Homo sapiens: one gene and its partners. The protein of the gene in region 4 interacts with the protein of the main gene of each other region in a pairwise test. Each region holds a gene or a part of one and is shown on either strand. Other genes may lie near its edges.

Evidence for each region.
Region 1: the proteins of PRKD2 (region 4) and MTF2 interact in a two-hybrid assay, tested with the Homo sapiens proteins (one large-scale study listed by BioGRID and IntAct).
Region 2: the proteins of PRKD2 (region 4) and RRBP1 interact in a two-hybrid assay, tested with the Homo sapiens proteins (one large-scale study listed by BioGRID and IntAct).
Region 3: the proteins of PRKD2 (region 4) and RARB interact in a two-hybrid assay, tested with the Homo sapiens proteins (one large-scale study listed by BioGRID and IntAct).

The regions. Positions count from the first base shown.
Region 1 is NC_000001.11:93,134,783-93,138,282, forward strand, and holds part of MTF2 (metal-response element-binding transcription factor 2), read left to right. Parts: intron 1-1,887; coding exon 1,888-2,245; 3' UTR 2,246-3,500. UniProt on the Homo sapiens protein: Polycomb group (PcG) protein that specifically binds histone H3 trimethylated at 'Lys-36' (H3K36me3) and recruits the PRC2 complex, thus enhancing PRC2 H3K27me3 methylation activity.
Region 2 is NC_000020.11:17,679,443-17,683,739, reverse strand, and holds the start of RRBP1 (ribosome-binding protein 1), read left to right. Parts: upstream 1-1,497; 5' UTR 1,498-1,712; intron 1,713-3,664; 5' UTR 3,665-3,741; intron 3,742-4,297. UniProt on the Homo sapiens protein: Acts as a ribosome receptor and mediates interaction between the ribosome and the endoplasmic reticulum membrane.
Region 3 is NC_000003.12:25,427,051-25,431,062, forward strand, and holds the start of RARB (retinoic acid receptor beta), read left to right. Parts: upstream 1-1,212; 5' UTR 1,213-1,471; coding exon of another isoform or gene 1,472-1,481; 5' UTR 1,482-1,681; coding exon 1,682-1,838; intron 1,839-4,012. UniProt on the Homo sapiens protein: Receptor for retinoic acid. Retinoic acid receptors bind as heterodimers to their target response elements in response to their ligands, all-trans or 9-cis retinoic acid, and regulate gene expression in various biological processes.
Region 4 is NC_000019.10:46,700,115-46,703,614, reverse strand, and holds part of PRKD2 (serine/threonine-protein kinase D2), read left to right. Parts: intron 1-2,502; coding exon 2,503-2,580; intron 2,581-2,662; coding exon 2,663-2,816; intron 2,817-3,500.

The sequences.
Region 1 (3,500 bases), on a different chromosome or scaffold from region 4:
TCAAGTGCTGGGATTACACGCCTGAGCCACTACAGCTGGCCAAGATTTGATTAAAAAAAAAAAAAAAAATCAGACACCTAAATCCTTTTGTCCATAAAATGATTTTAAACTTAAGATTTTCATCAATAGCAGACTCCCCTCTGATATCTTATTTAATCCAGCCCTTCAGAAGGACAACGTTTTTGTTTATTGTTTATTTTTTTTTGAGATGGAGTCTCGCTCTGTCACCCAGGCTGGAGTACAGTGGCATGATATCGACTCACTGCAACCTCCGCCTCCTGGATTCAAGCAATTCTGGCACCTCAGCCTCTCATGTAGCTGGGATTTACAGGCGTGCGCCACCATGCCCAGCTAACTTTTTGTATTTTTAATAGAGATGGGGTTTCACCATGTTGGCCAGGCAGGTCTTGAACTCCTAATCTCAAGTGATCCACCTGCCTCGGCCTCCCAAAGTGCCGGGATTACAGGCGTGAGCCACTTTGCCTGGCCAGGACAACTTTTCTCTAAAGCACATCATGTCAGGTATGAAAAGGTTAATCTATTTGGGGTCAGAGCTACTATTTTCAAGTTTTATACTTCATTCTGTTTAAATTTTGTTCATAATTCGAAAACTGCTGTTATAAATTATGCAAAATTCTACATTAAATGCTTAAAGTGTAACCCATTTATTAATGAATTCTGAATAATCGACTTTTTTGGGGCCTCTTACTAGATACTCTGCTAAGCTTTTTACAAATATTGTCTTATTTAATTCTTAAAACAATTTTTTGGCTGGGTGTGGTGGCTTATGCCTATAATCCCAGCACTTTGGGAGGCCAAGGTGGGAAGATTGCTTGAGGCAAGAGTTTGAGATGAGACCCCATCCCTACAAAAGAAAAAAATTATCTGGGCGTGGTATTGGTGTCTGTAGTCCTAGATAATCAGGAAGCTGAGGCGGAGGATTACTTGAGCCCAGGAGGTCAGGGCTCCTGTGAGCCATGATTGTGCCACTGCACTCCAGCCTGGGCAACAGAGTGAGACCTTGTCTCAAACAAACAAAAGAGAACAATTTTTTGAGTTGTGTAAGTCCTGTTGTTCTCATTTTACAGATGAGGAAAGTGAGACTTAGGGGATTTTAAGTAACAAGCCCAACATTGCATGTTTAGCAAGTATAACAGAGCTGGGTTGTTAACTTATACAGTATGACTGTAGGTCTTTCAATTTAGTTGTTGTACTATATTCTCCTTTTATTATAAAATCATAAAATAATTGAATTTCTGTGCTGAAAAGGACCTCACACATTATCCAGTCTAACCCCTTCACTCATTAAGTTCATGAACATAGAGATTGAGATTTGAATTTGGCCAAGTAATAGAGTTAGGGATAGACCCAGGATACTCTGACTGCTAGTTTGTGCTTATTCTGATTCTGGTGTATTACTTCACTAGGCCTAGAACTGGTAATAAGAGAACCTCTATTCTAGTTCCACTCTTTAAGGACATGGAGCAGTGTCATAGATGTAGTTTGTGCTCATTAATTATTTGTTCTAATGAACAAATGAATGAGCTCTTTTAAATGATGTGATTATTGGCAATACCTGATTTATGAGTAGGGCCTCTTCGTAAGAATTTTCCTTGTTGGCCTCCTAAGTAAAAAAATTACCCTAAACTTACTAGTAGTTAAGGAAGAAAAGCTCCACAAAGTTCAGCTCCAAGAACGTGACAAAATCTAAAGTAATGAGCCCAAGTGATAGTCCATTTATATAGCATTTATTGTTTGGGTTTGGCTCATTTTTATATCATCAAGGATATATGGTATAGTAGAGTAATCCAGAAAAGAGAACATATTGTATGGGCATAGGATGCTAAAAAAGCTCAGTAGACAATTCTGGCCTTCTCTGTTACATAGATTATCTGACTCCAGAAAAAGAACGCGTACAGGAAGATCTTGGCCTGCTGCAATACCACATTTGCGGAGAAGAAGAGGTCGTCTTCCAAGAAGAGCACTCCAGACTCAGAACTCAGAAATTGTAAAAGATGATGAAGGCAAAGAAGATTATCAGTTTGATGAACTCAACACAGAGATTCTGAATAACTTAGCAGATCAGGAGTTACAACTCAATCATCTAAAGAACTCCATTACCAGTTATTTTGGTGCTGCAGGTAGAATAGCATGTGGCGAAAAATACCGAGTTTTGGCACGTCGGGTGACACTTGATGGAAAGGTGCAGTATCTTGTGGAATGGGAAGGAGCAACTGCATCCTGACTGTAGGACTGAACATTATGTTCACTGCACTCTGATTTTCTGTAGGTACAGTTCAAAGCCCTAAAGGAGTCTGGCTTTTACTATCTTTCTTAAAAAAAAAAAAAAGTCAAAAAAATTCAAAAAAGGGGATGATACTAGCCTTAACATGTACCTGTCAATGTTATGGATATTGTCATAAAAAGGTATCTTTTAAAAATCAGAACAGAGACTTAATTTTTTAAATCTTAAGATTTGTAGAATGTTTCTAGGATAGGATATTAAAAATGATTGAAACCCATGCATGGTGTTAGACAATTTTTCTAATTATTCCATTGAGTCAGTTTTTTGTGATTAGTGATTATCAGAGCAAACATCATGTAGATAGCACAAGTATTTGGAGAAACGTTGTTTGTTTTGTTACCAAAATGTTGGAAAAATTTATTTCAATACCTTTTAGATTTCATAAAGTGCAGTGTATATAATGCCTACTGAAAGACTGTAAAATATTGAAATTTTCTTTCAAGCAAAGTGTAAAAAAATATATTGAGCCTGTAAATTGCTCTGTGACTAGACTTCATTGTCGTCTTAATATATTCTTGCATGTGCATATATATACACACGTGTATATATATGTGTGTGATTATGTGACCTATGCAATACAAATTATGGGAATGGGCAGCTTTGGAGTATATATCCCATAATTCTTTTTTCAGGAATAGTTGCAGTATTTACACAGCAGCATTTCTTCTCAGGCTTTTATTGGGTGCTGTTGCTTGCTATGTATGAAGAGAAATGTGTCAGACAAGTTTAGTGTGTTCTGAAGAAGGGTGTGAACAACAGTGTTCATGGGCTTTTAGAATGCTTTTCACTTTTAGTCCTTGTAACTCAGCTGTTCAGTACCTAAAACAAATTCAAATAATATGAACATTATCTCCTACTAGAAGTAACGTTTTCAAGTTTTCATGGCACATTATGATTGTAAATGTCTCTCATTTTTAACAGTAAGTCTATAGGAGTCCCGTGAAGATTCCTGAAATGTCTGTAGTAACTGTTAGTCATGTTTGAATAAGTGTAGTATGAACAAAGTATTTTATTGCACAGGGTTAACAAACAGTATGTTGCCAGCTGAGGCTACTGCTGTTTTATTACAACATTACCTCTTGTTTTTATAAAGTGTACCAAGATTTAAATTGATAACTTTATTTTACTTGTAAAAAAAAAGTTTCTTTTATCACCAGTGTTACAGTTGTCTTCTGTTTCTTTTTGTTTTGTTTTA
Region 2 (4,297 bases), on a different chromosome or scaffold from region 4:
CATGTTCAGAAAGGTTAGATGGCCCAGCCCTGGTCAAGTAGGACTCATTGGTAGCAATTGCCAGCCAGAAGCTGGGATTCTTGACTTTCATTTGAAGCCGGGTCTCACTGCTGGAAAATGACTGAGTGTTCCAGAGTTAATCCAGGTTAATTCCTGCTGATTAATCATTAATGGGCTAAGGAACCGCCAAGATTAAAAATAGGAATGAACAGTTTAATTTCAACCCAATCGCTCTTTATTCCCCATGAAGGCTTGTATTTTTCACATCTTTCTAACAACAGCTAGTACAGTACTAGTGACAAATGGGGACAGGGAAGATTGAAAATTGTCCAAGAAATAGATGTTAGGCACGGGATTCTGCAGCAACAGGAGCTAGGGAAGTGATGGGGGGCAGTCTAGGCAGCCTTTGGTCGCTCAGAATCCAAAATTCCAAAGAAGCTGGCTTTGGCTCAAGTTCAAAGGGTTGGCTTTAAGAGACGCTGACATAATGGTTAAAAATCAAGCCTAAAATTATTTTAATTTAAAGACTTGACTAATTATGAAGACTGAGTGTTGGCTGATATTGGGGAGAAAGTCAGGGAATGAGGAAGTACCAGTTGCTCCGTTTTGTGGGACACGGATGAGTTTTCTTAGGTTAGAACCTCTCACCTTCCCCAACGCATGGAATAAAACGCCACAGAGTGGATTGTAATTATTGCTCTGCCGGCTGTGATTTGGTTGAGTATCTTAAATAGACCGTGCCTCAGTTGTACCCTCCCTAACAACGAGGGCGATGACATCCGCTTCAATTCCTCGTGCACCTTCTGGCTCTTCCACCCCAATTCCTCCATTTACTGAAGGAAATTCCTTCTGGTGCTGATTGCAATCTCTTTGATGATAAGAACTTGCTCTCCCTGGGCTGACCCCCAGCAGAGCTTGTCCTCATACCCGGCGGCCCGAGGGGGCGCTGCTTCGGGGGAAGTTAGTTGGGTTTAAATAAAGCAGCTTCCTTGGCTGTTCGCGGTTGCGCAACCCTGTTCAGCCACCGCCATGTCAGCCCAGCGGTATCCAGAGGCGCAGGCCCGGGGTCGCCGGGACCCGAACCTTCTGCTTCCCGCCTAGGCAGAGCCGGATCCTAGTCAGAGACTGCTGGGAGCGCCGCGGGCCCAGAGTGGGCGGAGCTGGCCGGAGACCCCCCCCTCGGTGGGCGGGGCGTTCCTGCTCCGCCCCGCCCCGCGCACGGCCGAGCGCCGCGCCGCTCGGCCCCGCCTCTCCCCAGCCCTGCCCCCTTCACCTCCCCGCAGCTCCTCCCCTCTCCCATTGGCCGAGGTGGAGACCCTCCTCTCTGCCCAATGGCCGCCGCCGCGGCTCGGCCACCCGCGTCCTGACTGGCCAGCGACCGGCAGAGTGGCGGGGTGCGGACCAATGGGAAGAGGCGGCTCGATGAATGGCTGGCCCGGGTGGGGAAGGCAGGAGGCGGCGATCCCGGCGGAGGGGGCCGTTCGCCAGCTCTGAGGCAGAAAGTGCCACGACTCCACACGCGCGCACGCAGCCAGCGAGCGGCCGGAGCGGACGGCAGACGGGGCGGGCGGCGTCAGGGTCGCAGCGTCTACAGCTGCTCGGGGGCGGTTTCTTGGCGGAGGCTTGGCCGGCTCCTCTCTCCCGGCTCCGCGGCGGCTGCGAAGGCGGCGGCTCCTGCCCTCTCGCTTTCCCTCTCGCGTCTCTGGCTGCAGGTAAGAAACTTGGCCGGGCCCTGCAGCGGCCGCGCGCGGGCCGGGCCGTCGGGGGGCCGGGGCCGGCCGCGCTGCGCCGCGAGTGACACGTCTCCTCGGCGGCCCCTCCCCCGGCCCGCCCGCCGCCCGCCGCCTGCCGCCGCGGCCGTGCACCATCGGGGTCGGGGTCGGACTCGGGGCGGGGGTGCCGGGCAAGCGCCGTACCGGGGCGTAGGCAGGGCGCGCCCCGTGGTGTGGACCCCGCGGCCCTCGCCGTCCGGGGAGCTGCGGCGGCAGACGGGCGCGACGTGGCGACCGCTCCCTGCCTCCCTCCCTCCCGGCAGGGCCGTCGGGCCGGCCAGCGCGCTCCGAAGTTGGGCGAAGAAAGTTGGCGGCGGGGCGGGGCGGGGCGGCGCACAGCTGGCGGAGGAAGGGGTTAAGTTTCGGGAAGCCGCCGGATGACGTTGCCGGGCTGGAGTCCGGGCCGGAGGGGTGGGGTGCGGGCGGAAGGCGGCGGAGGCCGGCCGAGGGGAGGAGGGCGGGATTGAATGGGGGCCCACGGGCCGAGCGCGCCGGTCCCGGGCCGCGGCCCGCTGGCGCTTCGCGGGGCTGGGACGGCCCCCGACGGGGCGGGCCGGGGCCGCAGGGCTCGCGGCGCAGGGACCGGGTCTGTCCATGGCACGGACGCCGGGCGGCCGCGGTGGCAACTTCCCGGAGTGCGGGAGGCGGCTCCCTGCTCCCCCTGGCGGCGGGGCCGGGGCCACCGTTTCCCCGGCTGGGCTGCGCGGAGCCTGGCTCGAGGGCTCCCGGCGGGGGGACGAGGGCGCCCGGGGCCCGGCCCGCCCCGCCCGCGGCCACGATGAATGGGCCGGCGGTGCCAGCCCCGGGCGGAAGCGGACACCTCCGGGCCGGCCAAGCGCGCTGGCACCCGGCCTGGTGCCCGCCCCGGCCCGGCCGGCTCTCCCGCTGCGCCCTGATTAGGGGAGGCAGGCCGGGGTCTGCGCTTCCAGTGGGGCGCCCGCAGTGCTTCAGGGACCCCTCTCCGAATGATAAGTCGCGAGTTTTAGCTCTAGAGTGCCCCGGCTGGCGAGGGTGACCCCGACCAAGTTGTTTCGTTCGGGGTCTCCATTTCCTGGTCTGCAAATCGGGGCTCCTGTTAGCTTCGATTTGCGAGGAAAGCTGTGGAGACCCAGCACTTGTAGGAAGGAGCCACAAGTGTTGGCTGTTCAGTTGGGATGCTTTTGTTGGGGGGTGCTGGACACGGGAGGAAGGTGGGGCCTGGCTCCGGCACTGCGGCGGGCGCGGGGCTGCAGAAGTTGCACAGCCGGGGTTCTACACCCCGGACCACGTACTGGCCGCCTACTCGCAGGTCCCATAGCCCCTCTGAATCCTAGTTTCTTATCTGTGGCCTGAAGACAGCACCACCCACTCACAGGGTCGGGAACCACGCCGGGAAGTGCTGGGACCTTGTACAAACAGAAGGCAATTTGGCAATTACTCTGAGAGGTCAGAGGTTAGGAGAGACTGGGAAGCACCAAGGAAATGAAACTCTGAGGGACCTGAGGAGCCTCCCACGTCACTGCTCAGCTATTCACTCTGCGTGCTGGAACCTTCAGGGTAGGGGCCATCTGGATGGCATTTTCAGGAATTTGGAGAAATGGGCCTGGTAGGGCCTCATATCTCACATTAGATACCTCTTCAGAACTGGGTGTCCCCAGAGACCCAGGACGTCTGTCTGGCACTCCCAGGAAGAACAACTGCGAATGTTACCCCGCCCTGTGCAGCTGGGGGGCATTCTCCCACTGCCCCGCCTCCCTCCTCACACTCCTTGTTTGATTTAACTTCCTGTTAATCCGACACCTAGAGAAATCTGTGACCCTGCAGCATGTCACTTACTGTGTGATGTCTTGACTCGTTTACGAACTTGCCAAAGGTCACTCCCACTATCATATGCCAACCTCTTTCCCTTCCAGAAAGAAGCTTCCGGTTCTGAGGTCCTGGAGGTGCCATTTCCCTCTCTGTTGAAGCAAAGGCCGGGGCAGACCTCCTAGTAGGTGAAGTTTTCCTTTTACATGGAGCACCGCAAAGCCGGCTTGCAGGGATCTTGGGCCAGTGGAGGCCTGGAGGAGGCTAAGGTTGGGGGAGGGGAAACCAGAAAGGGATCTTGGGGTTTAGGAGAGGGTTTAGAGCTCTAGGCACTATAACAACTCTCACCTTTCATACTTAGGAATCTGCCTCTGAACATTTACAGAGAGATTAAGAAGTTACAGTGGTTCATGGTATATGAGTATTTTTTGGTGATGGAAGAGTTTTAAATAAATCTTAAATCAAGTCACATTTGAGCAATTATGCTCTTTAATGAAATGAGCCCTAACTCAACAGGCTGCAATAATTACATAGCAGCAAACTCAGTTTAAATGGTTGAATGCCAGTGATTGAATTGGAGTATTGATTTATTATGTAGCAGGGACACCTTTTAAAAGTGTCGGGACCCCAGACTCTTCTTGTCTTTTTAGCCCTGGGAATTTTAACTAATAGATGAATGACACATAGAGGATCAACAGTTCTGTTGAGACAGCAAGTTTTTCTTTGCTAAAATCTTGTTT
Region 3 (4,012 bases), on a different chromosome or scaffold from region 4:
AATATGCGTTTAATTATGTGGTGGGATGTGTGTAGGTGTATGATGAGAGAGGCAACCAACATGGCTATTTGGGGTGCAAGGATGTGGGAACAGGCAAGTAATTTTCACATTGGACTTTCATCCTAGGGAGCTGGGTTCTAGTCACAGCTCTGAGCTGTGTGACCTTGGGTAGGTCTCATCTCCCCGGGGTTTTGTTTCACCAGTTGAACAGTATGAGGATGAGTCACAGCTAACATTTGTTCCATGATATTTACCCAGCACCATACAAGTGTTATTTCTGTCCTCCCAGTTAACACTGACGTGGGTAGTATTATATGCCCATTTTACAGATGAGGAAACTGAAGCCTGAAGAAGTTAAATACTTATCCCAGAACACACAGCTGGTAAGTGGCAGACCTGGAATTGGAATCTAGTTCAGTTTGATTCCCCAACCCATGCTCTTGACCACTATACTGTTTTTTCAAGTCCAGATCTGAAATCTCATTTTCTGTGTGGCTGTGTGTTTGGGACAGGGGTAACCAATTCCTGACTACTCTATATGCTGCATAGAACCTGGAGAGGATTTTTCAAAGTAAATGAATCTCGAAAGCTGGATTGCAGAGCAAACGAGTGCAGTCAATTCAGCCAGGGGCTTGCAAGAGGGAGAAAGAGAAAAAGACTGTGGAATGGAAAGTTTCCCAACCCAAGCCTTTCCCAAGGGGTAGCCATTCTCTGTTCTACAGTTTAGGGCTTGCATGTGCTTTTTCTGGAGTGGAAAAATACATAAGTTATAAGGAATTTAACAGACAGAAAGGCGCACAGAGGAATTTAAAGTGTGGGCTGGGGGGCGAGGCGGTGGGCGGGAGGCGAGCGGGCGCAGGCGGAACACCGTTTTCCAAGCTAAGCCGCCGCAAATAAAAAGGCGTAAAGGGAGAGAAGTTGGTGCTCAACGTGAGCCAGGAGCAGCGTCCCGGCTCCTCCCCTGCTCATTTTAAAAGCACTTCTTGTATTGTTTTTAAGGTGAGAAATAGGAAAGAAAACGCCGGCTTGTGCGCTCGCTGCCTGCCTCTCTGGCTGTCTGCTTTTGCAGGGCTGCTGGGAGTTTTTAAGCTCTGTGAGAATCCTGGGAGTTGGTGATGTCAGACTAGTTGGGTCATTTGAAGGTTAGCAGCCCGGGTAGGGTTCACCGAAAGTTCACTCGCATATATTAGGCAATTCAATCTTTCATTCTGTGTGACAGAAGTAGTAGGAAGTGAGCTGTTCAGAGGCAGGAGGGTCTATTCTTTGCCAAAGGGGGGACCAGAATTCCCCCATGCGAGCTGTTTGAGGACTGGGATGCCGAGAACGCGAGCGATCCGAGCAGGGTTTGTCTGGGCACCGTCGGGGTAGGATCCGGAACGCATTCGGAAGGCTTTTTGCAAGCATTTACTTGGAAGGAGAACTTGGGATCTTTCTGGGAACCCCCCGCCCCGGCTGGATTGGCCGAGCAAGCCTGGAAAATGGTAAATGATCATTTGGATCAATTACAGGCTTTTAGCTGGCTTGTCTGTCATAATTCATGATTCGGGGCTGGGAAAAAGACCAACAGCCTACGTGCCAAAAAAGGGGCAGAGTTTGATGGAGTTGGGTGGACTTTTCTATGCCATTTGCCTCCACACCTAGAGGATAAGCACTTTTGCAGACATTCAGTGCAAGGGAGATCATGTTTGACTGTATGGATGTTCTGTCAGTGAGTCCTGGGCAAATCCTGGATTTCTACACTGCGAGTCCGTCTTCCTGCATGCTCCAGGAGAAAGCTCTCAAAGCATGCTTCAGTGGATTGACCCAAACCGAATGGCAGCATCGGCACACTGCTCAATGTAGGTTTATTTTTTTCCCTTCTTCTACCAAGAAAAAAAAAATTGTCTCTCTTGCATGCAATAAAGACGTTGGAAATAAACTGCATTGGTAGCAAGACAAAGGATTTAATGATTTAATGCTGAAGGGGTGTGATATGCTGGCATGCATATTGATTCCCTTTGCTGAAAATTTCCTGTTAGATGTTTTCTTCCCAAATAACCCCTCCCGCCCCCATGCTCCTCTCCTTACCAACCTTATAGTCTCTTGAAAACAGTTTTTAAAATATGCATAAAAATGTGGGGGGTGGGGAGTAGAGGGTGACCACAAGACTTTAAAACATTCTTCAAGTAGGGCAATTTGACACATTTTGCAGTTTTTACTAAAATGTATGCAGAGTGGAATTTAACTTTGCTGTTCTTTGGATTAGCTACTAGTTGTATAGGTCCCCCCACCCCTTGTGTATTCCAACAGTCCAAAGTAATTAAAATATGACATTTTCCTTGAAAGGAATTTAGTTTAATTAAGGTGGCTGCTGCTCCCGAAGTTCATAAACCACCAGTTCAAGCTGCCGCTTCCAATGTTTTCCTTGCTAAGGAAAGGCAATATTTCTTAGCATTGACCCTGCTGCCACCTTTCCAAGTCACTTTGTTGGTCTAAGAAGTTGCTGTTTTGCTAGAAAACTACTGGCAATGAACACCCCTTGGACTGAGCCATCCATTATTTCCATATCTTGCAGTTCAGCCCGGAACGTGGACATCAGTTAAAGGAAAGGAAATATAAGTGGGGTAGCCCAATTTAAAAAAAAAATATTGACTATTTTGTTATCTGATGCTGACACAGTGCCGAGGTACGCACCTGGTCAACAGTAGCCTGGCTGCAGGCTTGAGAAATGATCAGGAGTCCCAGAAAATCCCACCTTCGGGTGGCTGTAGTGGGAGCCTGCAGGATGCTTCGCCGCCCTGACAGTGATTTAGATAAATGGCTCAGCTATCTATCAAAATGTTTTTAGTACTTTATTTGACAATTCATTGGAGCATTAGCCTGAAAATGACATTTTAAATCTTTGTTTTCAAAGAGGTCAAAGTTTAACTGGAAGAAATTGAGTTTTCCTAATAACATGGTGGCTTATCTAAAGAGAGAAGAAAAAGGGGAGAGGGGACAATGACAGGATTTAAATTGCCCTCTCTGAAACTTTTTCTTAAGAATAAAGACTTGCTTCTTGGGCCGGGAAATCAACAGGTTTGTAGCTGAAAAATCAATAACCATTTGATGCCAACAGCCTGGCTGTCTGACTTAACATTTTGTAGAGCCATAAGCAGGGCAAAAAGAATATCGTTTTCAGAAGGCGCCTTAATCTTCAGCTGCTCCCCAAATGCCTTTTCTTTTTTGGTGCCCATTTTATTTCTGGAGAACTCAAAGAAACTGGAGTGTTACAAAATAATTTTCTAATCCAAGAAGAGACTTTTCAGACCTGTCCTCTTTGTAGCAATTAAAACAGTATGAACAATTTCTGTTGGAATCCCAGGGAACTGGGGCTCTCTGAAACTTTTTCTTGTTAGAGAAAGTGGTAATGAAACATGTTTTTTAACAGAAGGAAAAAATATGCTCAGGATCCTCGCCAAAAGTTATTAGACCTAATAGAGTTTTTACATGTAGACATTCTTCCTTTTGTAATTAACCTTCCAAAGATGCCTATTAAGTTGTAAGAGTAGGGGGAAAAGCTTTGTTTGTTCTTGGACAAGTTAAACAAGGGATTTGCTTTATCTAGGGAGAGCGAGCGGTGAATGTGTCATTCGCCTAAAACTACCCGATAAGCAAGAAGTGTTGATAACAGCAAAGTTTAGCTAATCAAAGAAACTTGCATTAGACAAAGTAAATAAAGGCATTTGACAAAGGGATTTCAGAAATTCCAGTGTCTTATTTTTGTAAGCAGGGCAATTAGTTCTTATTGTGGTCAGTTTCACAAGAGTTTGAATCCCACACCCCAACTTTAGGTTAAATGAATAAAATGTAAATATTGCTTGTGCCCTTGCAGAGTTGCTTTACCCTCATAAACCACTTTATGATGGTCAGTTGTTCCAACGATTTTTTTTTTTTTTTAGCATAAATAAAACTAAAACTTTTTTTTTTTTTTTTTTTTAGAGATTCTAACAAATGTCTTGTGCCATGCAGTGTTTGGTTCAGGGTGGTACAG
Region 4 (3,500 bases):
TATTTTTAGTAGAGACGGGGTTTCACCATGTTAGCTAGGATGGTCTCGATCTCCTGACCTTGTGATCCACCTGCCTCGACCTCCCAAAATGCCGGGATTACAGGCGTGAGCCACCGCGCCTGGCCACACCCAGCTAATTTTTAAATCATTTGTAGAGAGAAGGTATCACTATATTGTTCAGGCTGGTCTTGAACTCCTGGGCTCAAGCAATCCTCCTACCTCGGCCTCCCAAAGTGCTGGGATTACAGGTGTGAGCCACCGCGCCCAGCTGAACCTCAGTCTTTAGAACCTTGGAATCCTAGATTCATAACGTGCTTAGCATGGAATTCTAAAACTGTAGAACCTGAGAATTCTAGAATCAGAACCATAGCATTCAAGAATTCCGAATGATAGAATTCAGCTAAAATAACAACAGAACTTTAGATTACACATCTTAGATCTCCCAAGTTATAGACTCTCAGAGCATGAGAATTTTGGAACCATGGGATTTGAGGGTAATAGAAACATAGGCACATCAAATTTGAGAGTCTTAGACGTCTAGAATCATATAAGCTTGAAACCATCGTAACCTAGAATCCTGGAAATTCTAGACTCCCAGAACTTTGAACAATCAAATTCTAGAATCCAGCCAGGTGTGGTGGCTCATGCATGTAATCTCAGCACTTTGGGAGGCCAAGGTAGGTGGATCACTTGAGCCTAGGAGTTTAAGACCAGCCTGGGCAACATGGTGAAACCCTGTCTCTACAAAAAAAATTAAAAATTAGCCAGGCATGGCAGCATGCATCTGTGGTTCCAGCTACTTGGGACTCTGAGGAGGGAGGATTGCTTGAGCCCAGGAGGTTGAGGCTGCAGTGAGCCATGATTGTGCCACTGCATTCCAGCCTGGGTGACAGAGCAAGAACTTGTCTCAAAAAAAGAAAAAAAAAAATTCTAGAACCTCAGAAGCCTAGATCCACATAAACTTAGAAACATCCAATTCAAGAATTTACTGGAACAATCAAATTCTAGAATCTTAGAAGCCTAGAGCTAAAGAAGCATAGAAACATCAAATTCTAGAATCTTGTATGTATAGAATCCTAGAACCTTGGAATCTGCAGATTCTGGAGGTAGAGAAGCCTAGAATTGTAGAACCCTAGAACTGTCAAATTTTAGAGTTTAGATATATAACACCCTAAAATCTTGGACATTAAAGAGTCTTAGAAGTGTTGACTCATAGATGTCTAGAGTTCTAGAAACTTGGACATCAAACTCTGAAGCCTTAGAAATACGGAATCAGGTCAGGGGCAGTAGCTCACACCTGTAATCCCAGCACTTTGGGAGGCTTAGGTGGGTGGATTGCTTGAGCCCAGGAGTTCAAGACCAGCTTGTACAACATGGAAAGACCCCATCTCTACAAAAAATACGAAAAATTAGCCAGGCATGGTAGTGCGTGCCTGTAGTTTCAGCTACTCAGGAGGCTGAGGTGGGAAGATCGCTTGAGCCTGGGAGGCAGAGGTTGCAGTGAGCCGAGATGGTGCCATTGCACACTCTAGTCTGGGTGACAGCCAGACTGTTTCTTAAAAAAAAAAAAAAAAAACAAAAAACAGAATCATAGAACCTTCATAAAATAGGTTTTTAGTAAACTCTAGAATCTTCGATGTATAGTGTCCCTAGAACCGTGGAAACACTGAACTCTACAGCAATGGTTCTCGACCAGGGGCCGTTTTGCTCCTAGGGGATGTTTGGCAAGGGTTGGAGATGGTTTTGTTTGGTACGCTGGGATAGTGCTACTGGCATCCAGTAGGTAGAAGTCAGAGATGCAGCTAAACATCCTACAATACACAGAGCAAGTGCCCTAAAACAAGGAATTATCCTGGGCACTGTGTTAGTGTCACGGGTTGAGGAACCCAGCCCTAGGGTGTTCAGAGTCTGGAGTCACAGCACATTAGAACCAATAACACACACACACACACACACACACAAGTCGGGCGCGGTGGCTCACGCCTGTAATCCCAGCACTTTTAGGAGGCCAAGGCAGGTGGATCATCTGAGGTCAGGAGCGCGAAACCAGCCTGACCAACATGGCGAAACCCCGTCTCTACTAAAAACACAAAAAAATCAGCTGGGCGTGGTAGTGGGCGCCTGTAGTCCCACGCCCAGCTAATTTTTGTATTTTTAGTAGAGACGAGGTTTTACCATGTAGGGCAGGCTGGTTTCGAACTCCTGACCTCAAATGATCTGCTCTCCCCGGCCTCCCAAAATACCGAGATTACAGGCGGGAGCCACTGCACCCAGCAGTCGTCGGGATTTTGAGTCTAGCCCTCCTACTTAATCAAGACCCCCCCGATGGTTGGGAAAACTGTGGCTGAAAGTGGGAAAATGACCAGGGCAGCAGCAGCCAGTGTTCTTACCCAGACAGCAAGAGTAGACTCTTTTGAGCCTGAGGCTTAGGGTCAAGGTTCAAGCCTTCCAGGTAACCTCTCTTCCCCTTCTCACCCGTTCCCTTGTTCCCTGTCCTACCAGACTGCAAGTTTAACTGTCACAAACGCTGCGCCACCCGCGTCCCTAATGACTGCCTGGGGGAGGCCCTTATCAATGGAGGTGAGAGGCTGGGGGGATGCTGGGGAGAAAGGGGAAGGGGCAGGACTGGGTGGAGACCCCTCTGATGCCTCCGTCCCCACAGATGTGCCGATGGAGGAGGCCACCGATTTCAGCGAGGCTGACAAGAGCGCCCTCATGGATGAGTCAGAGGACTCCGGTGTCATCCCTGGCTCCCACTCAGAGAATGCGCTCCACGCCAGTGAGGAGGAGGAAGGCGAGGGAGGCAAGGCCCAGAGGTATACACAGAACCCTCCAAGAGACCCTGGGGGAAGACCCTCCTGCACAGTGAACCTCAATTTCTTTTTCTCTACAATGGGCTGACATCACCTCATATTTATAAATTTTCCCAGTTCCTGAGGCAAACCTTTTAAAGCACTACAATTTTTTTTAAATAATTTTTTGTTTGAGACAGGGTCTCGGTCTGTCGCCCAGGCTGGTGCAGTGGTGCAGTCTTGACTCACTGCAGCCTCGACCACCTGGGCTCAAGCGATCCTGCCACCTTAGCCTCTCGAGTAGCTGGGACCACAGGCTCGTCCACCACACCCAGCTAATTTTTGTATTTCTGTAGAGACAGGGTCTACCCTATGTTGCCCAGGCTGGTCTTGAACTCCTGACTCCTGAGCTCAAGTGATCCACCCGCCTCAGCCTCCCAAAGGGTCTTGCTTTGTTGCCCACTGGAGTGCAGTGGTGTGATTGTGGCTCACTGTAACCTCAAACTCCTGGGCTCAGGTGATCCTCCTGCCTCAGCCTCCCGAGTATCTGGGACTACAGGGATGCACTGCTATCCCTGGCTAATTTTAGACGGCGTTTCGCTCTTGTTGCCCAGGCTGGAGTGCAGTGATGCAATTTCAGTTCATTGCAACCTCTGTCTCCTGGGTTCAAGCGATTCTCCTGCCTCAGCCTCCCAAGTAGCTGGGACT